Homo sapiens: one gene and its partner. The protein of the gene in region 1 binds, or shares a complex with, the protein of each later gene. Each region holds a gene or a part of one and is shown in the gene's direction. Other genes may lie near its edges. The genes, in order: NCAPH2 and NCAPG2.

Region 1 (11,952 bases):
AACACTCAGTTCATCCATGAATTCCATCAGTTATACCACCGGAATATCACTTGAATTCATCTGTTGTCCATTTTATTTGGTCTAGGCCACCATTGTCTCTGGCCTGGATTTGTGTAAAACCTTCCTATTTGGGTTCCCTTATCCCTGTTTTTGTCCCGTCCAATTCGTGCTCCAACCAGCAGCAAGTGTGACTCTTAAAAATTAAAATCTGGCCACAGCACTGTTTTCTGCCTAAAATCAACCCCTCAGTGGCTTTCCATTATGCCCAGAATAAAACCCAAATTTCCTTCTCTGAACCTGGCTCTGCTCTCCATTTTAGCCTCATTTTGGGCTGTTTTGTATCTTGTTCTTTTGAACCAGTCAACCTATGGCCCCTCCAAGCTTTTTCTTGGTGGAAGATCTTCATGCTTTCTGCCCCCACTTGGGAATCTTCTTTTTTGTTTTTATTTATTTATTTATATATTTTGAGACGGAGTCTCACTCTGAGACGGAAGTGCAGTGGCGCGATCTGAGCTCACTGCAAGCTCCGCCTCCTGGGTTCACATCATTCTGCCTCAGCCTCTGCAGTAGCTGGGACTACAGGCGCCCGCCTCCACGCCCAACTAATTTTTTTGTATTTTAGTAGAGACAGGGTTTCACCGTGTTAGCCAGGATGGTCTCGATCTCCTGACCTCGTGATCCGCCTGCCTTGGCCTCCCAAAGTGCTGGGATTACAGGCGTGAGCCACCGCGCCCGGCCTCTTTTTTGTTTTTAAATAAAGAGGGACTTCATATGGCAAGGAAAAGGAGAAAAAAAAAATCAGAGAGGAGGATCTTACTGTGTTGCCCAGGCTGGTCTCAAACTGCTGTGCTCAAGCAGTCCTCCTGCCTCAGCTTCTCAGGTAGCTGGGACTATAGCTGTGCACCACCACACCTGGCTGGGAATATTCTTTCAATGACTGAGTTTGTTTTCTTTTCTTTTTTTGAGATGGAGTCTTGCTCTGTTGCCCGGGCTGGAGTACAATGGCAGAATCTTGGCTCACTGCAACCTCCGACTCCCAGGTTCAAGCAATTCTCCTGCCTTGGCCTCCCGAGTAGCTGGGATTACAGGCATGCACCACCACGTCCAGTTAATTTTTGTATTTTTAGTAGAGATGGGTTTCGCCACATTGGCCAGGCTGGTCTCAAACTCCTGACCTCAGGTGATCCAGCCAGCTCTGCCTCTTTCCAAAGTGCTGGGATTACAGACGTGAGCCACCACGCCTGGCTGACTGAGTCCTTTTCATTCTTAAGGTCTTAGTGTAAATGTCAGCTGACCACCCTATCTAAAATAGTCCTCTCCATCTCAGCACCTTACACACTTTAGAATGTTTATCATAAACCATTTAAATTTTTTTTTTTTTTGAGATGGAGTCTTACTCTGTCGCCCAGGCTGGAGTGCAGTGGCATGATCTCAGCTCACTGCAAGCTCTGCCTTCTGGGTTCACGCCATTTTCCTGCCTCAGCTTCCCGAGTAGCTGGGACTACAGGCACCTGCCACCACACCCGGCTAATGTTTTGTATTTTTAGTAGAGACGGGGTTTTACCGTGTTAGCCAGGATGGTCTCGATCTCCTGACCTGGTGATCCGCCCGTGTCGGTGTCCCAAAGTGCTGGGATTACAGGCATGAGCCACCGCGCCCAGCCAAAAAAAATTTTATTTATTTATATGTTTTTTTTTTGAGATGGAGTCTCACTCTGTCACCCAGGCTGGAGTGCAGTGGTGCAATCTCAGCTTGCTGCAGCCTCCACCTTCTGGGTTCAAGCAGTTCTCCTGCCTCAGCCTCTTTTTTTTTTTTTTTTTTTTTTGAGACGGAGTCTCACTCTGTCGCCCAGGCTGGAGTGCAGTGGTGCAATCTCGGCTCACTGCAAGCTCCACCTCCTGGGTTCACACCATTCTCCTGCCTCAGCCTCCCGAGTAGCTGGGACTACTGGCACCCGCCACCACGCCCGGCTAATTTTTTGTATTTTTTTAGTAGAGACGGGGTTTCACCGTGTTAGCCAGGATGGTCTCGATCTCCTGACCTCATGATCCACCCGCCTCGGCCTCCCAAAGTGCTGGGATTACAGGCCTGAGCCACCGCGTCCGATCCTGCCTCAGCCTCTTGAGTAGCCGGGATTACAGGCGCCTGCCACCACGCCTGGCTAATTTTTTTTTTTTTCTTGAGACAGAGTCTTGCCCTGTGGCCCAAGTTGGAGTGCAGTGGCACAATCTCGGCTCACTGCAAGCTCCATCTCCTGGGTTCGCGCCATTCTCCTACTTCAGCCTCCTCAGTAGCTGGGATTACAGGCGCCCGCCACCACGCCTGGCTAATTTTTTTGTATTTTTCAGTAGAGACAGGGTTTCACCATGTTAGCCAGGATGGTCTTGGTCTCCTGACCTCGTGATCCACCCGCCTCGGCCTCCCAAAATGCTGGGATTACAGGTGTGAGCCACCGTGCCTGGCCCCAGCTAATTTTTGTATTTTTAGTAGAGATGGGGTTTCACCATGTTGGCCAGGCTGGTCTTGAACTCTTGACCTCGTGATCCGCCCACCTCATCCTTTGAAAGTGCTGGGATTGCAGGTGTGAGCCACTGCGACTGGCCACAAGCCATTCTTCAACTCATTTACCTGTTTGTGGCCTGTCTCCACCCTAGAATGTGAATTCTGCCAGGGCAGGGACCATACTTATGCCCTCTTTTGTCTGCTTAGTAGAGTGCCTGGCACATAGGTGTGGACGTTAAAGTGTTTGTTAAATGCACATGTGATCTGATGACCAAACTTCTCTGCTCTCATGCATAGTTGGCTGAGAAAATACGGGGAACTGTGCTGGGCAGAGCTCCTGTGGATTCAGGTTTTCACATCAAGCAGGGTCCATGAGGACACCTGTTCACTTGGTAAATCTCCTTCCTGGCTTGGTCAGCTCCCTTCCTGCTTTCTTATGTCTGCTCTTCCAAACCTCTGCAGCTTGAAGTCCTGATTTCCTGGTTTCTAGTATTATCTTTTTCCTTCTGTCATTTTCCACACACTACCATGATGTTCTTTTTCTTTTTTTTGTCCTTTGTTTTTTTTTTTTTGTTTTTTTTTTTTAGATAGGTTCTTGCCCTGTTGCCCAGGCTAGAGTGCAGTGGTGCAATCATGGCTCACTGCAGCCTCGATCTCCCAGGCTCAAGTGATCCTCCCATCTCCCAAGTAGCTGGGACTGCAGGCATGTGCCACCGCACCTGGCTAATTTTTTGTATTTTTGGTAGAGATGGGGTGTCACTGTGTTGCCCAGGCTGTTCTCAAACTCCCAAGCTCAAGTGATCCACCTGCCTTGGCCTCCCAGAGTGCTGGGATTATAGGTGTGAGCCATTGCACTGGCCAGAATGTTCTTCTAGTACTGTCATGATCCTACTCTCTTTTATCCATTTATTTATTCATTGTTGTTAGTTGTGAATTGTGTGCCAAGAACCATGTTAAACTTTGAAAAAATAGTGCCAAGCAAAGCAAATGATAATCCCCACTATGGTAGGACTTCCTCTGTCATGGGAAGACGGGTCCAAGAGAGTAACCGCATGGGGGTGTAATAAATATGCATTTGGTGTTTACTTGTGTTAAGCACCTGTTTTATGTGCTTTACACATATGAATGCAGAGTCCTCACAAAAACCTTGTTAGTAGAGGCGTTAGAGATGTACTCTGAATGATAGTGGTTCCTGGCAGATCAGAATCCAGCCTCCACCCCTGCGTGTGACTTTGTGTAGTCAGAAACTGATGGCCAGGCGAGGTGGCTAACGCCTGTGATCCCAGCACTTTGGGGGGCCAAGGTGGCTCACGCCTGTGATCCCAGCAGTTTGGGGGGCCAAGGTGGCTCACGCCTGTGATCCCAGCACTTTGGGGAGCCGAGGTGGCTCACGCCTGTGATCCCAGCACTTTGGGGGGCCGAGGTGGCTCACGCCTGTGATCCCAGCACTTAGGGAGGCCGAGGTGGCTCACGCCTGTGATCCCAGCACTTAGGGAGGCCGAGGTGGCTTACGCCTGTAATGCTAGCACTTTGGGAGGCCGAGGCAGGAGGATCATTTGAGGTCAGGAGTTCGAGATGAGTCTGACCAGCATGGTGAAAACCTGTCTCTGCTAAAAGTACAAAAAAAATTAGCCAGGTATGGTGGTGCATGCCTGTAGTCCCAGTTACTTGGGAGGCTGAGGCAGGAAAATCACTTGAACCTGGGAGGCAGGGGTTGCAGTGAGCCGAGATTGTGCCACTGCACTCCAGCCTGGACAACAGAGCGAGAGACTGTCTCAAAAACAAAAACCAAAACCAACCAACCAACCGAAAAAATCACCAGAAACTTATAAGGGATTTGAAAGAAAATGTATGGTCCTGTGGAGAGTTTGGGGGGCTTAGTTTGTTTGAGATGAAAGCAGTTACTTATTTATGGTGAGCTAAAGAATGTTTAGCTCCAGGTGGAGGAAACCTGGTGTTGGAAGGATTGGAGTTTTTACAAAAATTAGCCGGGCGCCTATAATCCCAGCTACTCAGGAAGCTTAGGCAGGGAGAATTACTTGAACCCAGGAGGCGGAGGTTGCAGTGAGCTGAGATTGCGCCCCTGCATTCCAGCTTGGGTGACAGAGTGAGACTCCGTCTCAAACAAAACAAAACAAAACAAAACAGAAGGTTCCAAGTTGGGACCATAGAGCAGAGGAGGGCAGGCAGCTGGAGAGGGAGGCTGGCCAGCATGGAGGCCTCCCTCTGGCTCCGTTTAGGATTTTGGGTTTTTCCTGCCACTGTTAGGAAAAACCCAAAATCCTAAACAGAGGCACTGAGCAGAGCGTGGAGAGTGGACGGGAGGGGAGTGAAGGGCAGGAGGAGCCCTGTCAGTGCAGAGGTGAAAGGGGAGGTGGTGGGGCCAGAATGGGGGTGACTGTGGAGAGGAACCCCTGGGTTTCTGGGCAGGTGGGTTGGGGGCTATTTGGAGTTCAGTGTGGATGCATTCAGTATGAATCTTGGTGAAGCCATCCAAGCGATGTTTGAAGAAGGCAGCTGAACATGTGGGTTTGGGCTCAGATGGCAGGTCCAACCTGGGGAGGTGAGAAGACAAGTGAAGCCCAGTAGTGTCTTGGGAGTGGGCAAGCCAGCCAGGCTGAGGGTCACTGGAGAGAAGGGCCACTTCTGCAGCTCAGCTTCCAGGCCGCCATCTCCTCCATGTTCCCTTCTTTCTGGACCAGCTCTTCAGGTCCTGAACACCCCCGAGGTCCTTACACTCCGTAGACGACCATGCTGCTGTTTCCTCTCCCTTCCTCCCAGATCTGACAAACACCCTTTATCCTTCAAGAGCTAATGGAAGTGACTCCCCTTGGGGATGGCTTCCCAGCCTCTGCCACTCCTTCGTGCTACCATGGTGCCTAAAATCTTGCCTCTCCCCAGCACGCGCCATGCTTTGGCCATGTTTAGATCATGCTCATTTTCCTGAAGAGACGTGTCCAGTCTCTGCTAGCTGCCTTCACGTTCCCTTCATCTGTCTGGTGAGCCTCTGCGTTTTTCAGGCTTAGCTTTGACATTATCTATGCATGTGTTCATCAAATATTTACTGGACACCAGTGTCAGGCACTGAACAGAAGGCTGGAATTACACTAATGCTGCTCACACAGTTCACTAAGGGACACGATCACACTAAGGGAGCGGCACAGAGGCCCCAGGAATGGAGGGGCTCTGAAAAAGAGTTTGCGTGGGGACAGCTGGGGGTCGGTGTTCCAGGCAGATGGAAATGCAAAATTGAAGAGCTGGAAAGACACCTAGGGGCTTCAAAGTGTCGTTTGTGGCTGGGCACGGTGGTGCATGCCTGTGATCCCAGTGCTTTGGGAGGCTGAGGCAGGAGGATCACTGGAGGCCAGGAGTTTGAGACCAACCTGGGCAACATAGAGAAACCCTGTCTCTACAAAAACATTTTTTTTTTGAGACGGAGTCTCGCTCTGTCGCCCAGGCTGGAGTGCAGTGGCGCGATCTCGGCTCACTGCAAGCTCCGCCTCCCAGGTTCATGCCATTCTCCTGCCTCAGCCTCCCGAGTAGCTGGGACTACAGGCGCCCGCCACCACGCCCAGCTAATTTTTTGTATTTTTAGTAGAGACGAGGTTTCACCGTGTTAGCCAGGATGGTCTCGATCTCCTGACCTCATGATCTGCCCGCCTCGGCCTCCCAAAGTGCTGGGATTACAGGTGTGAGCCACCGCACCCGGCCTTTTTTTTTTTTTTTTTTTTAAAGTGTCATTTGCTGAGAAGGAATACAGGAGATGAGCCAGCGTTGGGGAAGATGTTGGGTAAAGTATGGAAGTAAAGTGTTTGGGGACATTTGAATGTACTCTGTGGACAGCTATGAATGCAGCCCCAGAGCTAAGGAGAGAGAGCTGGTCGGGTTGGGTTTGGGGCTCATTGGCTTATGGTTGGCAGCTTGGGCATGGGATGAAGGAATGTGCATGGCGGGGGGTGGAGCGCCTGGCGCACTGACGTTTAAGGGGTGACAGAGGAGCTGGGGCTCCGGGAGGCTGAGGGGAGCAGAGGAAGGATGGCGACTCACCTGTAACTGTTTCCTGAGTTCTCTGCTCAGAGGATGGAGACCTCAGCATTTTATCTCTGCCTTTCCTACCCCTGAGGTTCCCTTTTCTTCTCTGTGTCGGGGATCTTCCTGCTGGAGTCTGTCAGCCTCTGGCGCCTTGTGGAGGGAGCCGCTGTGCTGCCCTGGTTGTTTGTAGACAGTGTGCCCTGGGGGCCTTCCACTTCCAAAACAGGTTTTTGTTATAGGAAGTAGGGGGAAACACAGAGACCTGTCTCTGCCCCGAAATACCAGGGACAACCGGTGAGCCCACAGCATAGCTAGAGCTGCCCGTCTCGGGAGGTGCTGGGCAGAGACCAAAGATGGGTGGGGCTGCCCTGGAAGAAGCGAGTGCAGACTGGGCCTTGGATTCCCCCTGTCTTTGTGTTGTTTCTTGCAGCTGGATCAGATCTGCATTTCTTTTGACGAAGGCAAGACCACAATGAACTTCATTGAGGCAGCGTTGTTGATCCAGGGCTCTGCCTGCGTCTACAGTAAGAAGGTGGGCCCTGCTTGACGCTGGTCTTGGCATTTTGGTGGCCAGTGGGACCACAGTCGGCTCTCCTTCTGGGGCAGGTGCAGTGGTCGTCCCGTCTGTGACCTACCTCCCTCTCTCCTCAGGTCTCAGCCAATTCCTCAGCACCTTCCAACACCAAGAACAATTTTTAATTTAAAATCGCACAGCCAGGCAGGGAGGGTCTTTTGTGCTGTTGGGCTCTGTTGTCTTGGGGGAATGACACCTGCTGTGTGCACTTGGACACAGCCCAGGGTGCCACCTGCACCCACCTTCCCCTTCCCCGTCCCCTACTTGTGGGTGCCTCATTGTCAGCACCTAGAAAGTCCACAACCACCACCCTCACGGTGGGGCCTCTGTTCTGTGGAGGAGAAGGACAGGAAGTGAGTGACGGGCTCTGTCCTGCAGGCCCCGTGGCGGCAGGAGCTGGGACAGGGCAGGGCCAGGACAGGAGGAGGGGCTGGGGTGATGCTGGCGGGAGCACACGGGCGGAGGAGCAGCAGGGCTGCAGGCCGTCGGCAGAGTGGGTGCCAAGCACGAGGGGCCTCACCACCAAGGACCGTGTGATGAGGCACACTGTGGGAACCACAGTGCTGTCAGGGTCACACGTTGAGAAGGCCACGCTCGCGGCTGCGTGGACCATAGAGGGCAGAGGAGAGATGTGGGTGGCCTCAGCTGGTAAAGTAATTCTCATGAGATTCCTGGTTTGATTTGAGAATTATTTTTGGAACCAAAATTGGTGGTTTCTTGTACTGGAGGTTTGGTGGTGGTGGCCAGGCCTCGTGGGGGCACCGATGGATAGCTGGGAAGGCCTTGGGGGTGGGCCCCTCCTTTCTGGGTCCTCACTGCCTGCATCTGGTCACCAGGTGGAATACCTCTACTCACTCGTCTACCAGGCCCTTGATTTCATCTCTGGAAAGAGGTGAGTTCTGCAGCCACTCACTGTGCTGCCCTGCATGTGGCCAGGGAGGCCCCTGCAGCTCCTGGGATGCCCACGGGATGTGCTTCTCTCTCAGGCGGGCCAAGCAGCTCTCTTCGGTGCAGGAGGACAGGGCCAATGGGGTTGCCAGCTCCGGGGTCCCCCAGGAGGCAGAGAATGAGGTGAGTTTCTTTGGCATGTGGTCCCCGCCCACTGTGTGTTTGCCTGGGCTCCGCCCCCACGAGCTCTGTCTCCCTCCAGTTCCTGTCGCTGGATGACTTCCCTGACTCCCGGACTAACGTGGATCTCAAGAATGATCAGACGCCCAGTGTGAGTCCTGGCCTGGCCCCTCTTAGGCTGGGGTGAGGTCAGCACTTTCCCTGGGGCTGTGTTGAGCTGATGGGGTGTGGGAAGGTGTCATTGCCCCATGTGGGTCCTGTTCTCCACTGGAGTGGAAGGGTGCCTGGCTCACCCACCCTTGGCCTCCATGCAGGAGGTCCTCATCATCCCCCTCCTGCCCATGGCCCTGGTGGCCCCTGATGAAATGGAGAAGAACAACAATCCCCTGTACAGGTAGGGATCTGAGCCCAGCGACGGGGAGGGAGGCCTGCCTGGGAAGGGTCTCTACAGCAGGCGTGTTTTTGCCAGCACAGCCGTCAGGGTGAGGTCCTGGCCAGCCGGAAGGATTTCAGGATGAACACGTGCGTTCCCCACCCCAGAGGGGCCTTCATGTTGGAGCCAGAGGGCATGTCCCCCATGGAACCAGCGGGCGTTTCCCCCATGCCAGGGACCCAGAAGGGTGAGGGCTTGGATGCGGGGGGCTTGGTGGGAAGGAAGGGAGGGTCTTCTGGTTGGACTCTTGTGGGGTGCCCTGTGCTTGCCACCTCTGGTCTTGGGAGCTCCCTGTCTCTGGGTGCCTGCTCTAGTCTAGACAGGTTGGCTGGTGCTCATCCCACCCATCTGCTGTGCCTTGATTACAAGTTAACATGGTCTCAGTGCCAGAGACCTGGTGCCTGGCTCAGGGCCCTGCTGTCTCCCCCCAGCCCAAGGCCTGGAGTCTGCTGGTCTCTGCCCTCCTGCTGGCCCCTTGGAGAGGCTTGTTGAACACCGGGCAGGGACCATCTTGGAGAGGGGCTGGGCTGACCTTGTCTGATCCCTGTCTCTCCCAGACACCGGGAGGACTGAGGAGCAGCCAATGGAAGTTTCCGTGTGCAGGAGCCCTGTCCCAGCACTCGGCTTCTCCCAGGAGCCAGGTGAGAAGAGAGCTCCCCGGTGGGACTGGCAGGGCAGCCAAAGAGGGGACCAGGGAGGCAGCACCCAGTGGACAGGGCTCCAAGGGGCTGCTCTCAGCTGCCAGCCTCATGCCCCTTCTGTGGCCCATGGGAGTGAGGCCTCGCCCCGGGGAAGCAGCCACAGCCCCCGGTGAGCCTCAGCCCATCTTGGTTCACTGACTGCCCTCTGACTGCCCTCCTGGGTCTCCTCTCTGGGCAGATGTGGATGGCTGCATTTAAAGAGGAACATTTGCTAAGAAATAAAATGAACCAAGCAGAGCACAGAGCACAGGAGCACGACGAGGATGGTGCAAGGCACCCGCCAAATCCTCTGGGCTCCGTGACTAAAGCTGAGGGAGGAAGTAGCCATCAGGGTCCCTTTGGTGCCGTCTGGTCTCGGCACTCCTTGGAGCTGATCACTCTCTTGCTCCCTGCCTAGGCCCCTCTCCAGAAGGCCCGATGCCCCTGGGTGGGGGCGAGGACGAGGATGCAGAGGAGGCAGTAGAGCTTCCTGAGGCCTCGGCCCCCAAGGCCGCTCTGGAGCCCAAGGAGTCCAGGAGCCCGCAGCAGGTGGGACCCACATGGAGGCCTGCAGAACCTGAGCTGTGAACTGGCAACCCTGGCTCTGGGGCCGAGTCACCTTGCACAAGGAGGACAGTGGTATGGCCTTGGCCCCAGACCACTGGTCTGGGGCAGAAGCCCACCTGTCTTGCAGCCCGTCCTGCAACCAGCCCTTTTGAAGAGCAGCTTCTGTGTTCCTCCCCTCTCTGAGCAGAACTGATGCTCCTCAGAGTAGTGGGCTGGCGTCCAAGGATTTGAGCCCTGTCGAGCTCACGGCAACCTGGGATGGCCGCCGGTTGCCAAGGCGCCTCTCTGCAGTCGGGCTGGTAGGAGGGAGTGTCTGGAGGCCATTGCTGCCTCCCTCAACCCCCGGGGTCAACTGTACCCAGCCTAGAGCCAAGAAATCCTTCCTTTTTATTCATTAAAACAAAATCAACCTGATGCATACAGAGGAAATGTTAACGTTTCTTCACTCTAGTTGGTAGATGGCATGGATATTTGTCATATTCTATTCATTTTTCCTAGTTTTGAAGAAGAGTACCCCGTGACCACTGTTTGTGTTTTCTGTTTGTTTTTTGAGATGGAGTTTTGCTCTGTCCCCCAGGCTGGAGTGCAGTGGTGCGATCTTGGCTCACTGCAAGCTCCGCCTCCCGGGTTCACGCCATTCTCCTCCCTCAGCCTCCCAAGTAGCTGGGACTACAGGCGCCCGCCACCATGCCTGGCTAATTTTTTGTATTTTTAGTAGAGACGGGGTTTCACCATGTTGGCCAGGATGGTCTCAATCTCCTGACTTCGTGATCTGCCCGTCTTGGCCTCCCAAAGCACTGGGATTACAGGCGTGAGCCACCACGCCCGGCCCACTGTTTGTGTTTTAAAGTTTTTCTTAGGGTTTTTGTTTTAATACCCCCAGAGAGTACTAGCAGGGTTTATTTTTATCTTATTTTATTTATTTATTTTTGAGACAGGGTCTTGCTCTGTTGCCCAGGCTAGAGTGCAGTGGCCTGATCTTGGCTCATTGCAGCCTTGACTCTCTCTAGGCTCAGGTGATCCTTCCACCTCAGCCTCCCGAGTAGCTGGGACTACAGGCGTGTACCACCACACCCGGCTAATTTTTGTATTTTTTGTAGAGACGGGGTCTCACTGCATTGCCCAGGCTGGTCTTGAACTCCTGGGCTCAAGTGATCTACCCGCCTTGGCCTCTCAAAGCACTGGGATTATAGGCGTGAGCCACTGTGTCCGGTCCCTGTAGGTTTTTTTTTTTTTTTTGGACGGAGTCTTGTTCTTTTGCCCAGGCTGGAGTGCAGTGGTGTGATATCGGCTCACTGCAACCTCTGCCTCCTGGGTTCAAGCGATTCTCCTGCCTCGGCCTCCCGAGTAGGTGGGATTACAGGTGTGCGCCACCACACCCGGCTAATTTTTTTTGCATTTTTAGTAGAGGCGGGGGTTTCACCATGTTGGCCAGGCTGGTCTCAAACTCTTGACCTCGGGTGATCTGCCCGCCTTGGCCTCCCAAAGTGCTGGGATTACAGGCATGAGCCACCACGCCCGACCCTTGTAGGGTTCTTGATGTTAACCCAAGGTGGAGTTCCTGGGGTACCCAGAGCCTTGAGGGGAGAAAGAGGAGAAGTGGGGACCCTGTGACTGTCTTTGCAGAGTGCTGCCCTGCCCAGGAGGTACATGCTGCGGGAGCGGGAGGGGGCCCCAGAGCCTGCATCCTGCGTGAAGGTAGGAGTGTTGGGGCCCTGACCCCCGGCAGGGAGGGATGGGCGGATTCGAGGACTGGCTGCCTGCCCATCATGCTCTTGCTCCTGCTGGCCTGTGGTGTTCCCAGCCTGTGGCCCTTTGCACTTGCTCTCTTAAAGACCCCCTCATGCGACTCTGGGCTCCCACCCTCTCTCTAGTGTTCCCCTCTGTGATCCAGGATTTGAGTGTGGTCGGCTCTGCCCCAGGCTGTCACTGCACTTGTTGCCTGGGCTTTGGGAAGGCGGCTGTGCACCCCCTACTCCTCTGGGAGGGTGGCTGTGTACCCCCTACTCCTTTGGGAGGGTGGCTGTGAACCCCCTACTCCTCCTTTGGGAGGGTGGCTGTGCACCCCCTACTCCTCCTTTGGGAGCGCGGCTGTG
Region 2 (12,112 bases), on another chromosome or scaffold:
GAGAGGGAGTCTCGCACTGTCGCCCAGGCTGGAGTGCAGTGGTGCGATCTCGGCTCACTGCAACCTCCGCCTCCCGGGTTCATGCCATTCTCCTGCCTCAGCCTCCTGAGTAGCTGGGACTACAGCCTCCCGCCACCACGCCTGGCTAATTTTTTTGTATTTTTAGTAGAGACGGGGTTTTGCCAGGATGGTCTCGATCTCCTGACCTCGTAATCCGCCTGCCTCAGCCTCCCAAAGTGCTGGGTTTACAGGCATGAGCCACCGCGCCCGGCCGTGAATTTTTTTTTTTTTTTTTTTTTTTTTGAGACGGAGTCTTGCTCTGTCGCCCAGGCTGGAGTGCATTGGCGCAATCTCGGCTCACTGCAAGCTCCGCCTCCCGGGTTCACGCCATTCTCCTGCCTCAGCCTCCCGAGTAGCTGGGACTACAGGTGCCCGCCACCACACCCGGCTAATTTTTTTGTATTTTTAGTAGAGACGGGGTTTCACCATGTTAGCCAGGATGGTCTCGATCTCCTGACCTCGTAATCCGCCTGCCTCAGCCTCCCAAAGTGCTGGGTTTACAGGCATGAGCCACCGCGCCCAGCCGTGAATTTTTAATAACAGCTTTATTGAGATACAGTTTTATACCATAAAATTTACCCTTTTAAGCATACAACTGTGTGGCCTTAGTAAACCCACAAGGTTGTGCAACCATCACCACTATCTAATTTTAGATAATTTTCGTCACCCCAAAACCACAGCCATTAGTAGTCACTCCCCACGCCCTCTCCTCAGTCTCTGGCAACACCTAATCTGCTTCCTGCCTCTGTGGATTTTACAGTCATGTGGACCTTCCATATAAATGGAGTCCTACAATCCGTGACCTCCGTGTCTGGCTTCTCTCACTGAGCATGATGTTTCAAGGGTCATCTGCACTGTAGGGGTGTCAGAGCCTCATTCCTTCTACAGCTGAGTCATATTCTATTGTGGGAAAAGACCACACTGTGTTTCTCCATTTGTCTGTTGATGGACACTTGGGTTGTGTCCACTTTCTCAGTCATGCTATGAGCTTTAAGAGGACAGTGATTGTCCCGCGTTAACGCCTGGCTTGGGCAGGTGCTGAGGAGCCACTCATCGCGCAGTCCGATTCTCAGCTGTTTCAGGTTCAGCCTGGAGCAGGAACCTCAGCTTTATTGATTTTATACTCGAGTCATTCACGTTTCCTCTTTTTACATGTTTTCTGAGATCAGTTTCTTCTAACCTGTGCATTAGGATCACTTGGGGAGGTTAAAAAATATGAATGCAGGCCGGGTGTGGTGGCTCACGCCTGTAATCCGAGCACTTTGGGAGGCCGAGGCGGGAGGATCACGAGGTCAGGAGATCAAGACCATCCTGGCTAACACAGTGAAAACCCGTCTCTACTAAAAATACAAAAAAATTAGCCGGGTGTGATGGCGGGCGCCTGTAGTCCCAGCTACTCAGGAGGCTGAGATGGGAGAATGGCGTGAACCTGGGAGGTGGAGCTTGCAGTGAGCCGAGATTGCGCCATTGCACTCCAGCCTGGGCGACAGTGTGAGACTCTGTCTAAAAAAAAAGAATGCCCAGGGAATCCCCGGTTGAATTGATCGATTTGATTGAGTTGGCCAGGAAGCCTAGCCTTTAGTATTTTTAAAGCAGCTGAAGTAGTTTTCATGGGCAGCCATGGTTGAAAACGTTTGCCCTCGATGGTTTATCTTGTTCTCCTTTGAGTAACCACTAAGGAGATACCCCTGAGCTCACCTCCCGTGCCTGAGCTCCGCATCCCTGGACCCATGCTGCGACGTCCCCGAGGACCCCAGGGGGATTGGGGGGGGGGCTGCTCACTTTCCTCTTCACTTTTGCCCCTGCAGTCTTCCCTAGGTCACAGCTGCAGGTTGTGTATGAAAATTCCTTTATCGAAAGGCCGGGGATCATGTTAAAGAGGAATTCAACCTAAGAGGGGGAAGAAAACCACTTGCACTGAACAGGAGCTCCCCAGAAGTCCAGAGGGCCCTGCAGAGCCTGGCTCGCCCCACCATTCCCCTCCCCTCACTGTCGGGGACACCAGGTGATGGTATCTGTCTCAGCACCCCCAGTTGTCACCCTCCACCCCTTCCCAAGCTCTCCCTAAGTGTGGCTGTGCCTCCTGGGTTCAAGCGATTCTCCTGCCTCAGCCTCCCGAGTAGCTGGGATTACAGGCGCACGCCACCATGCCTGGGTAATTTTTGTATTTTTAGTAGAGACGGGGTTTCACCATGTTGGTCAGGCTGGTCTCAAACTCCAGACCTCAGGTGATCTGCCCACCTTGGCCTCTCAAAGTACTGGGATTACAGGTGTGAGTCACTGCACCTGGCCTCAGGTATTCCTTCATAGCAGTGTGAGAGCAGACTAATACAGCTTCCTATGTGCTGGAGAGACTCCTCCCCTTCTTGGAGCCAGTGGCTCACTCTGCTGGGCCAGGCCCTGTGTGGCCCTGGAGACCCCTCCTCCGGGCCCCCGGCTGGTGTGACAGAGCCCTCACAGCTGCCCTGCACTGGGGGGTTTTGCCCAGAGTGGCTTTGAAATGGTTATTTTAACTAGGATTCCATGAAGTTCCTAGCTAATGACTTCTTGTTGGTTTAGCTTATTTTCCATGTTACAATTATTATAATTAAATTATAAATCTTGTATTTTCTTATACAGGCAAGGGAAGGGTTTCTGAGAAGCTGATAACAATGGTTTCCTTTGGAGCAGAGGGCTGTGTCCAGGGGGTCTCAGAAGACTCTTCTGTATACCTCTTCTTGCCATGTGAGTTTGAACCGTGTGATTGTGTTACTTGTGCAATTCAAAATAAACTAAACTTAAAAAAAAAAAAAAACCCTGCAAACCCTATGCTTGGCTCACTATGAAAGATATTATATTTTTGGCCGGGCGTGGTGGCTCACGCCTGTAATCCCAGTACTTTGGGAGGGTGAGGCGGGCGGATCACGAGGTCAGGAGATCGAGACCATCCTGGCTAACACGGTGAAACCCCATCTCTACTAAACAAAATACAAATAATAATAATAATAATAATAATAATAATAATAATAATAATTAGCCAGGCGTGGTGGCGGGCACCTGTAGTCCCATATACTCGGGAGGCTGAGGCAGGAGAATGGCGTGAACCTGGGAGGCAGAGCTTGCAGTGAGCCGAGATAGCACCACTGTACTCCAGCCTGGGCAACAGAGCGAGACTATGTCTCAAAAAAAAAAAAAAGATATTATATTTTTATCAAAGATATTTTTGCCAAGTTTTATACCCTTTGAAACTTAGTTTTATATTGCCTTGCCATGTGGTCCACCTTTAATTCTATAAACCTTTTCTAATTTACCACATTGTAAGATTTTAAGAACACAGATGATCTCATGCCTCATTCATTCATTTATTCAGAAAATATTTTCTTCAAGCATCTAAAATGTGCCAGGCCTTACGCCACGGATATAGGACTAAGGATGACACAGTGCTTGACATGGAGGAGATGATGAGGCCTGTGGTAGGGGGCTAAGAGATTGCATTACAGTGAGGGTTATGGGGTTCAGGAAATAAACCCCTATAGAAGGTAAAGCTTGAGCTGAGTTCTGGAGGAGTGTCATCTATTTGCGGGGAAGGTCACATTCCCAGTGAACGGTGATGGCAGCGGGAGGCAGACAGGTTCCTGGGTGGGAAGGGGCAGGTCCCTGGTGAAACCCCACTTTCAAGCCAGGGACAGCCTGAAGTTCCTGGGCCAGGATGCCAGTTCCTGGTGAAGTCCGAGATCCAGAAAGAGAACTTACTTGATGCCTTTCAGCCAATCAAGTAGTGCTTTTTCCAGGCCTGCCCATGGGCCAATCAGCACACACTTCCTCCTGTCTATGGACCAATCAACATGTACTTCCTCCATTCTGAGCCCATACGTGCCTGTGGATAGGAGCTACCCACTTCGAGTCTCCTCTCCACTGAGAGCTATTTGGTCAGCTGTTCTCTGCCTTGCTCACCCTCCAGATGTCTGCCAAACCTCATTCTTCCTGGACATGGGACAAGAACTTGGAACCTGCTGAATGGTGAGAGCAAAACGAGCTGTAATACTTTCCTGGCCAGCTTGCCAAGTTGCAGGTGGGAGCCAAAGTGGCTGTAACGGGTTCCTGGCCGGGTCGCTGAGCTGCGGGTGGTGACACGCTCCCAGACTGAGGGAGTGAAGAGTGGTGACCCTTGTAGAGGCCCAGGCCTTGGGATTCCCCAAGCCAGAGCTATAATGCTATAGCCCTCCCACCCTCTGCTGGCGCCCAGTGGCCACCCCATGCAGTGGGAAGCAGCGGTGGGGCCGGGACAGCCAAGGAGCCGTGGACCGGTGTGGGGCGGCAGGACCAAAAGACCTGTAACACAAATGAGGTGAAACATGCCGCCCCGGAAACACGACCCCCTGCTAGCCACGCTGTGGGTGATGAGAAGGACAGAAGAGCTGTGGCCCTTCTGGGAGCCCAGACCTCGGGGCTCCCCGAGCCAGGGCTGTGACACAGTGTAACCCCCCTTTGGGGCTCTGTGGCTCCTGGCATCTGTGAGCTTTCGGGTGCCACCATGTTCCCCTTGTCCAGATGCTGATGCCTGCAGTGGAAGCCACTTGTGGTACCTCTGGTCCAGCCACAGCCTTGCATGGAGCCGGCAGCTGTGCAGGCACCTAGAGCTGCCTGCTCCACCACAGCAGCTGCATGGCTGGGTGTGCGCAGTGGTTGGACCCCATGCTCGCTTGCTCACATACCCCTTGCCGCTCTGCACCTGGCTCACCCTTGGCAGGCGTGGGATCTGGGTTGGTAGTGCAAGCCGAGTGCAACCTGCTGGGCTGAGTGGGCTCGAGCAAAACTCTAGCAGAGGCACCGCTGGCCACGGAGGTTTCTAGCTGGTGAAGCGATACCCAAAGGATCCTATGACATTAGTGGCTGCATGGGCAGGTGCATTGGGGGTGCACTGGGCGCTCCTGCTGCCCTGCTTCCACGTGCCTCTGAGCACTGCACTACATAGACATTTAGGCCTCATAACAACCCCCTAGAGGAGGCTGAGCTCTGCATTATACAGACATTTAGGCCTCATAACAACCCCCTAGAGGAGGCTCAGTACTTAAGTAGGTCCCATTTGATAGATGAGGAAACTGAGGCTCAGTCGTCCATGGCTTGTCAAAGGTCACCAGCTAGTGAGCACAGAACCAGGTTAGCCCAGGTGGTACAGCTTCAGAGCTCACATGCGTAACTTGTTACATTATTCCTACTCAGGAAGTGGAAACCCCAGGAACAGATGGCTGATTGGAGGAGGGACCAGCATAAGGAAAGGGGCAGGATTCAGGGGTGGGAGGGGAAGTCGATATCTGTTTTGGATGCATGTCAGCACCAGCGTGGGAGTAGGCAGTGAGCTGTTGAAAATTCTGGAGTTCAGAAATAACCGTGTCTTGCAAATCCAGATGCAGAGGTCACTGCTTGAAGGTGGCAGTTTGCACCTTGGATATGAAGGAAATTGCTAAGAAGAAAGCAGTGAGAAGATGAGGGCACCAAAATTCAAGAAATGGCAGGGAAGGATCTGTGTATGGAGGGAGGAGGAGGTCAGAGGTGGCTGGAGCCCCAGGATGAAATAGGCAATGTTAGATATCGGCCACCTGTTGACAAGGGTCCCAGACTCAGCATCCTCTGAGTGGGTCTTCTCCCTCCCCTCTGCAGCCTGCCTTGCTTCACTGTTGCAAGCTTCCTAGTAAACCAGTCTTCTCCCTGCTATAATTTTATATTGCTTGTTGAAACGATATTCCAACAAGTAACATAAATATTTTTGATATACTAGGCTAAATAAAACATATTTAAAAATTAATGTCACCTATTTATCTTCATTTTTCTAATGTGGTCACTAGAAATTTACAAGTGCACTTGTGGCTCCCATGATGTTCCTATTGGTTGGTGCTGTGCTCCCACAGTGCAACGACTTCAATCTCGCCAAGACCTCTGGCTTGAGTTAAGCCAGGAAAACAGATACCACTCTAGACATCTCAAGCATGAAAGAATATAGCTCCAGGGAAGGCCAAGTCCTCACGAAGGGATGCAGAGCTCGGTGGTAAAGAGCACCGTTTTCTAAGAATTTGCTTTCAACAAAAATTGGGAACGCCCAATCAAGTTATTCGCTGACACAAATTAAAAGAGATTGATACATCAGTATGTGATTTTGGCATTTAAGTCCAAAGAATTGAATGACATTGCTACTCCTCCTTCACACGGGTGCCTCCGAGGGTCCCCGCTAAGGCCTCTCCCTCTCCACCCTATGGGCAGCTGACCTGCCGGGGGCCTCACCTGCTGGAGGAGCAACTGCAGGAGAAGCACCTGTTAGGGGCCGCACCTGGCCGGAGGGGCTCCTGCGGGGGAAGCACCTGCCCAGGGTGCACCTACCGTGTGCAGGCTGCGGACCACCCGGACAGGTGCCCCCTCGGCAGGGAGGGCGGTCACGGGGGCCGGCCAGGTCGGGGTGGGGTCCTCCCGGGGATCCAGACACGGCCCTGTGGCCTCTCCCCGCCCCAAGCCTTTCCTTTCTCTCCCCCTCTCTCTCTTCCTCTCCTTCCTCCTTCCCACAACACCGCCCGCTCGCAGCGCCCCGCCCTCTCCTGGACCGCGCACTCCCTCCGCGGAGGCCCCAGGACGCGCACGAGCGCGCAGTGGACGTCGGCGCGCGGACCGGGCATGGGTTCCCCAGCTGTGGCGCCCCGCGTGCGCGTTCCGTAGTGCCCGGTAGGGCACTGGGCTTAGCTGCTCGAGGCCGCGCCCTAAGAGGCGGGGCATAGACAGGAAGAAGACTGGCGGGCATGTGGGCGGGGCATGATCTGGAGGCGGGGCGGGCCGGGCGTGTGGGCGAGGCCCGAGGCTCGCGGCGCCCCAGCTCTCGCGAGAGCGGCGCCTGATGACGACCGGGAGGGCGGGGCCCGTCTGGGGCGCCGGCGGGTGCGTTTGAATCTGGTCCGAGCGCGGGAAACGGCGGGTCCCCGAGCCCAGGTAAGAGCTGCGGTGCCGAGCCGGGATTGGGTTCAGAGCAGGGGCTGGGAAGTAGCAGGGATCGGGCGGGAAGCCCCTCCTCGGCTGGTCGGGGTCCCAGCCTCCCCTCCCCTAAGGAGGCGGCCGACCTGCGTGCGGGCAGTGCTGCCTCTGACGGAACTGGACGGAACTGGCGACCCCGGGCCATCCCCCCTACCCAGCTCAGCGACGCCCGTCCTTCTTGTCCGTGTCGGAGGAAAATCCCAGCCCCGGGCGCGGGCACTGCCCTCAGAGAGCGACCCCCCAGCCCTGAGCATGGGCACCGTCCTCAGAGAGTGTCCCCTCAGTCCTGGGCATGGGCACTGCCCTCAGAGAGCGACCTCCTCTGTCCTGGGCATGGGAACTGCCCTCAGAGAGTGTCCCCTCAGTCCTGGGCATGGGCACTACCCTCAGAGAGCGACCCCCTCAGTCCTGAGCATGGGCACTGCCCTCAGAGAGCGTCCCCTCAGTCCTGGGCATGGGCACTACCCTCAGAGAGCGACCCCCTCAGTCCTGAGCATGGGCACTGCCCTCAGAGAGCGACCCCCTCAGTCCTGGGCATGGGCACTGCCCTCAGAGAGCGTCCCCTCAGTCCTGGGCATGGGCACTACCCTCAGAGAGCGACCCCCTCAGTCCTGAGCATGGGCACTGCCCTCAGAGAGCGTCCCCTCAGTCCTGGGCATGGGCACTGCCCTCAGAGAGCGACCCCCTCTGTCCTGGGCATGGGAACTGCCCTCAGAGAGAGTCCCCTCAGTCCTGGGTGTCGGTACTGCCCTTAGAGAGAGTCCCCCTGAGCCCTGGGTGTAGGCACTGCCCTCAGAGAGTATCTCCCCAGCTGTGGACGTGGGCATTGTCCTCAGAGACATCAGTCTCCTGAACTCTTGTTGCTGGTTTGGTGCCTCTTGTTGTGTCCATGAGGAAGGAGTTTGGGGACGGAGTGGGAAGTCACAGGTGGTGAGAAGGTAACAGGGATTTCTTCTTTTTAATGCTCATCTTGATTTAGTACCAGACCTCCTGTGCGAAGAGTAACCTGCTCTTCGGACTGATAACTGGATGGTGAGATGACTCCTTACCTTGAAAGTAGCATTCTGGCTGCAGGGCTGAGGTCTTATGCACATATGGTACAAGAAACATGGAATATTGCCACTTTGGGAGATAGATTGAAAAATTAACCATTAAAAAATTACAGTCACTAATATAAGAGGGAAAATGGGAAATATAGGAATAAGTTTGGTAGTCTAGAGGAAGTGTATTACTGTAAGTTGGACTAACATGCCAAAGAGGTACACTTGGAAATAGAGCAAACAAGAAAAGTGACCAGAACTATGAAAAAGTGGAGAGTGTTCACAGACTTGCCGGGCGAAGATGTATGATTCCATGTGTTTGCTGCACCTTATTGGATTATTTTTCTAAAATCATGAATTTGTCCTAGCCACTATTCATTATGCTTGTTACTGGCCACTCTCCCTTCCCTCCCCATTTTCTTTGTCAGTGAAAAATGTGCCAGTCATGCTTGATTTAAAGAGGGAGACACGTTGTCGTTAGGCAATTTCATCATTGCATGAACATCACAGAGTGGACTTGCCTACACCTAGAGGTGTAGCCTACACACATAGGCTGTATGGTGTAGCCTACTGCTCCTAGAATGTTACTGTACTGAATACTGTAGGCAACTGTAATACAATGGCAAGTATTTGCATCGCTAAACATATCTAAGCATAGAAAAAGCACAGTAAAAATATGGCATTATAATCTTATGGGACCACGGTCATACATGTGGTCTGTTGTTGACTGAAATGTTATGTGGTCCATGACCGTAGTTCATAGTTCAGCCATTTGAGTTGAGGAATGAGATGACCAGACTTCACTGTTAACTTATTTCGGGAGTCATTAAACTGAGGTTATTTTTGCTTTGTTCAATTTGGACATTAAAATCTAGTATTATATGTTTAAGATGACTCTCTGTCCCCATAATTATTGGCAATAATTTTCCATATTGCTCTATTTATAATGGTGCAGGTGGTTTTCATTTATTTTTAAAGTGAGGGGGCTCCTACTGCAAATGTGTTCCATCATTTGCTATTACCTCATCTTTAGGTTGATGTTTTTTCAGTAGGGCACCAGTAGCACCAGGTATTGTGAATGCGAAATAGAATTTCCTGGAAAAACACAGGCAGGATGGAGGGTATACAAAGTCCCCTGAGCTCTCATTATCCCGAAGGGGTGGGAGGAGGGTGCTGTGGTTGAGCATGCCTAATGCATAGTCTAACAAGATCCCAGGTGACCCCCGGGGCCACTGTTTTCCATCTCACTTTGAATAACAAGATGACACTAACAGTGGGATTTTTTTGATGGAGGAATGGCCTTTAGAAAGGGAGCATCTTCAGAATCTGCAGCTGGGATCAGATTGTTCTTTTGTTGAATCAACTCAGCTCTGCCGAGCCAGCATCTTGCTAAGGTACTAAAAAGGGAGAGATGGTGGTGAGCTTCCTAAGGCTATTTGGATTTCTCCCTCCTTAGTTGGTAATTTTATTAACAATTGTTGATAAAATATCATTAATATCATGTTATTCACATCCCCAGTAAAGGAAATAAGTAAATTGTTTTTCAGATATTATAGCGTGTTTTATGTCAGAATGTTTTTAGAAACTGTCTGCCATACGTGGTTGAGGAATTTTCTTGCAGTTCTTGGATGTTAATATCAAATTAAATCTTACAGGAAAAGATATATTTGCAAGTGTTTCAGTATGATTGTGTTTTCCATTAGGGTTACAAAATAAATGCCATTTGAACAGTGCCATCTGTCATGGAAAAACGTGAGACGTTTGTACAAGCCGTGTCTAAGGAGCTGGTTGGAGAGTTTTTGCAATTTGTTCAACTTGATGTAAGTTTCATGTTTTAGTTTTGTTGTGATTTTTGACTGTGAATATGAAATATGTTCTAAAGTCATTATGTCCCCAAAAGAAACATAGTTATCTCAGTGAATCCTTAGCGACCAATGTTTATTTGAAAGAAGAAAACAAAACCCTTTATACTCAAATCTACCTGCTGGTGGGCTACGCTAAGATGTAAAAGATAAACAGAAGTTAACCAGTCAAAGAGGGATGTTGGGGGAAAGGACCCATCTAACAAAGAAGGTCACTCTGAAGACTAGAGAAGGTTTGTTGTGTTTGAACTTGAAGTTCAGCAGGAAGGCAGAAGATGAGGCTGGGGGCTAGGCTACACGAGTCTTTACCATTTTAAGGAATTCAGACTTTATCTTGAGAACGGTGGGTGCTTGAAGCAGGGAGCGAGCTGTAGGCAAGGGAGGAAGAGAACAAAAGAGAAGGAGAGAGAACTAGTGGACAAAATAGAGGTAAGGAGAAAAATATGGTTTGCCTTTTGGAAATATTCCTCTGACTACAAGTGAGAAATATGTCAAAGGGACATATTTAAGGCTAACCTCTTAGGTTGTGCTCTTCAAAATGATGGTTGAATTAGGAACTGGAAATGGGAAGCTGCTTGGTAGTGAAGTGATGGCACTATTGGACTGATTGGATATGGATATGGTGGGGAAGGGCCCAGGCGTCTGACTGTGTAGTACCATTCAGCAAGCTCATGAACGTGGGAAGAGGGCAGATTCAAGGGAGAATGTGGCTCCATTTTGGAGGTACCAGATGACTGGTGGTGGGATGTGCACCAGCGGATGGCCAGTAGTCAGACATGCACGTCTGGATACCAGGGGAAAGGGCTGAGCTAGAGACAGGTTGGGCATGGAAGCCTAAGTCATGGGAATGCCTGCAGTTATCTCTGTAGAGTTTCAGATAAAAGGGCCTAGGACACATCTCTGAGGAAGCCAGCATTGGAGGCACTGACTCTGAAATACGAAAGTATCTTTGGGGCAGGAGACCCTTGGCACACTTGTCTCACTTGTTCTTATTATGTGGTGAAAATCAAATTAGTGACAAAGAATTAGAGGAATCTAATAATGAATTTGTTACTGGCAACATTTAAGAAATCATTTTTCTTTATAAGAGAAATGAGCTTATAACATGTTTTGGTATTATAAAATGATATCCTGTAAACTTAAAAATAATCGCAAACTCATAGGCATCTCATCACCATAGAAGTGTTTATAAGAGCAAATTAGTTAGATAATATATAAATGTCTGCTTTAGCAGTAGCAGTGTATATGGATTGTATTGGAAATGCAGTACATACATATTTTAAAGTCTAAAAGATTGTTGTTGCAAAGTGCATACCATAATGTTAACAAAATCACAGAAAACTAAATTGAAAATCAGAGGTAAAAATAGCAACTCAAAATCACACTGGTGGCCACAATGACAGGTGCCCTTCTGGGGTGCGTTGTTTCCAGCCACCCGTTGTGTGCCAACCAGCCTTTGCAGTGTTGCTGGAAAGCCAGCAGACATCTCAGGAGAATACTGAATTAGTCCTTATACTAATGAGGCATTAACTCTAGTTTATCAATAAGCTTTATTAACACTTAACAGTTCAGCTTAGTACCTAGTCACCGTGTGGCTCTTACGTGTAAAAATGAAAATGTGTAGGATTGTGCATCACGTGGTTTCATCAAGTTGAATGACAGAAATGCCATTTTATATAATAATGATGGTTTCCCATAGTTCAATTTGATAAGAATTTAAATCAGTTTGGGGCCTATCAGGTAGATCTTTCCAAGTACAGTTAGTTCTGCTGTAATCCCACACATGCATTACCAACAGTCACTGCACTCTGCAGAATTGGTTAAAATAAATAAATAAATAAATAAATAAATAACCCAGAGAGATTATGGGGAAAATGGAGTTAGAGGGACAACACTAAAAAATTTTGCCAGTGACATGTTAAAAACAGGAACCTAATAAAACAGTAGCATAATTTTATATGTTAAATCAGTAAGAAATGCATAAATACTATAGTAAGCATGGCACTTTACCTTGAAAAATATTTACATTCTATAGTTGGGAGTAGGTGCCTGTGCTCCCAAGGTACACCTGCCCCTCTGTGTGTAAGAGGAAGAAAATGAGGTAGAACAGAGGAGAAAAAGGCAAGCAAGGCAGAGGGGAATACAGAGCATTGGAGA

Evidence for each region.
Region 2: the proteins of NCAPH2 (region 1) and NCAPG2 are in contact, whole or in part, in a cryo-EM structure (PDB 9F5W), measured with the Homo sapiens proteins. Residues at the interface, in NP_689512.2 of Homo sapiens: Pro316, Trp317, Gln318, Ser319, Leu320, Pro322, Phe323, Asp324, Ser325, Leu326, Glu327, Ser328, Lys329, Pro330, Phe331, Lys332, Lys333, Gly334, Arg335, Pro336, Tyr337, Ser338, Val339, Glu344, Gln360, Asp361, Phe362, Gln364, Trp365, Tyr366; in NP_001268861.1 of Homo sapiens: Lys248, Leu251, Gln252, His292, Ile294, His295, Leu296, Pro297, Arg299, Ser300, Val302, Lys340, Ala341, Arg342, Asn343, Ser344, Glu345, Val346, Pro388, Tyr389, Pro390, Arg393, Gly425, Glu426, Ala428, Phe429, Asp430, Thr431, Ser432, Arg437.

The regions. Positions count from the first base shown.
Region 1 is NC_000022.11:50,509,483-50,521,434, forward strand, and holds part of NCAPH2 (condensin-2 complex subunit H2), read left to right. Parts: intron 1-6,237; exon of another isoform or gene 6,238-6,265; coding exon of another isoform or gene 6,266-6,292; intron 6,293-6,964; coding exon 6,965-7,066; intron 7,067-7,944; coding exon 7,945-8,000; intron 8,001-8,094; coding exon 8,095-8,179; intron 8,180-8,258; coding exon 8,259-8,327; intron 8,328-8,490; coding exon 8,491-8,570; intron 8,571-8,645; exon of another isoform or gene 8,646-8,650; coding exon 8,651-8,796; intron 8,797-9,166; coding exon 9,167-9,250; intron 9,251-9,707; coding exon 9,708-9,838; coding exon of another isoform or gene 9,839-9,877; exon of another isoform or gene 9,878-10,270; intron 10,271-11,482; coding exon 11,483-11,554; intron 11,555-11,952. UniProt on the Homo sapiens protein: Regulatory subunit of the condensin-2 complex, a complex that seems to provide chromosomes with an additional level of organization and rigidity and in establishing mitotic chromosome architecture.
Region 2 is NC_000007.14:158,699,623-158,711,734, reverse strand, and holds the start of NCAPG2 (condensin-2 complex subunit G2), read left to right. Parts: upstream 1-6,930; 5' UTR 6,931-7,011; intron 7,012-8,032; exon of another isoform or gene 8,033-9,487; intron 9,488-9,796; 5' UTR 9,797-9,835; coding exon 9,836-9,913; intron 9,914-12,112. UniProt on the Homo sapiens protein: Regulatory subunit of the condensin-2 complex, a complex which establishes mitotic chromosome architecture and is involved in physical rigidity of the chromatid axis.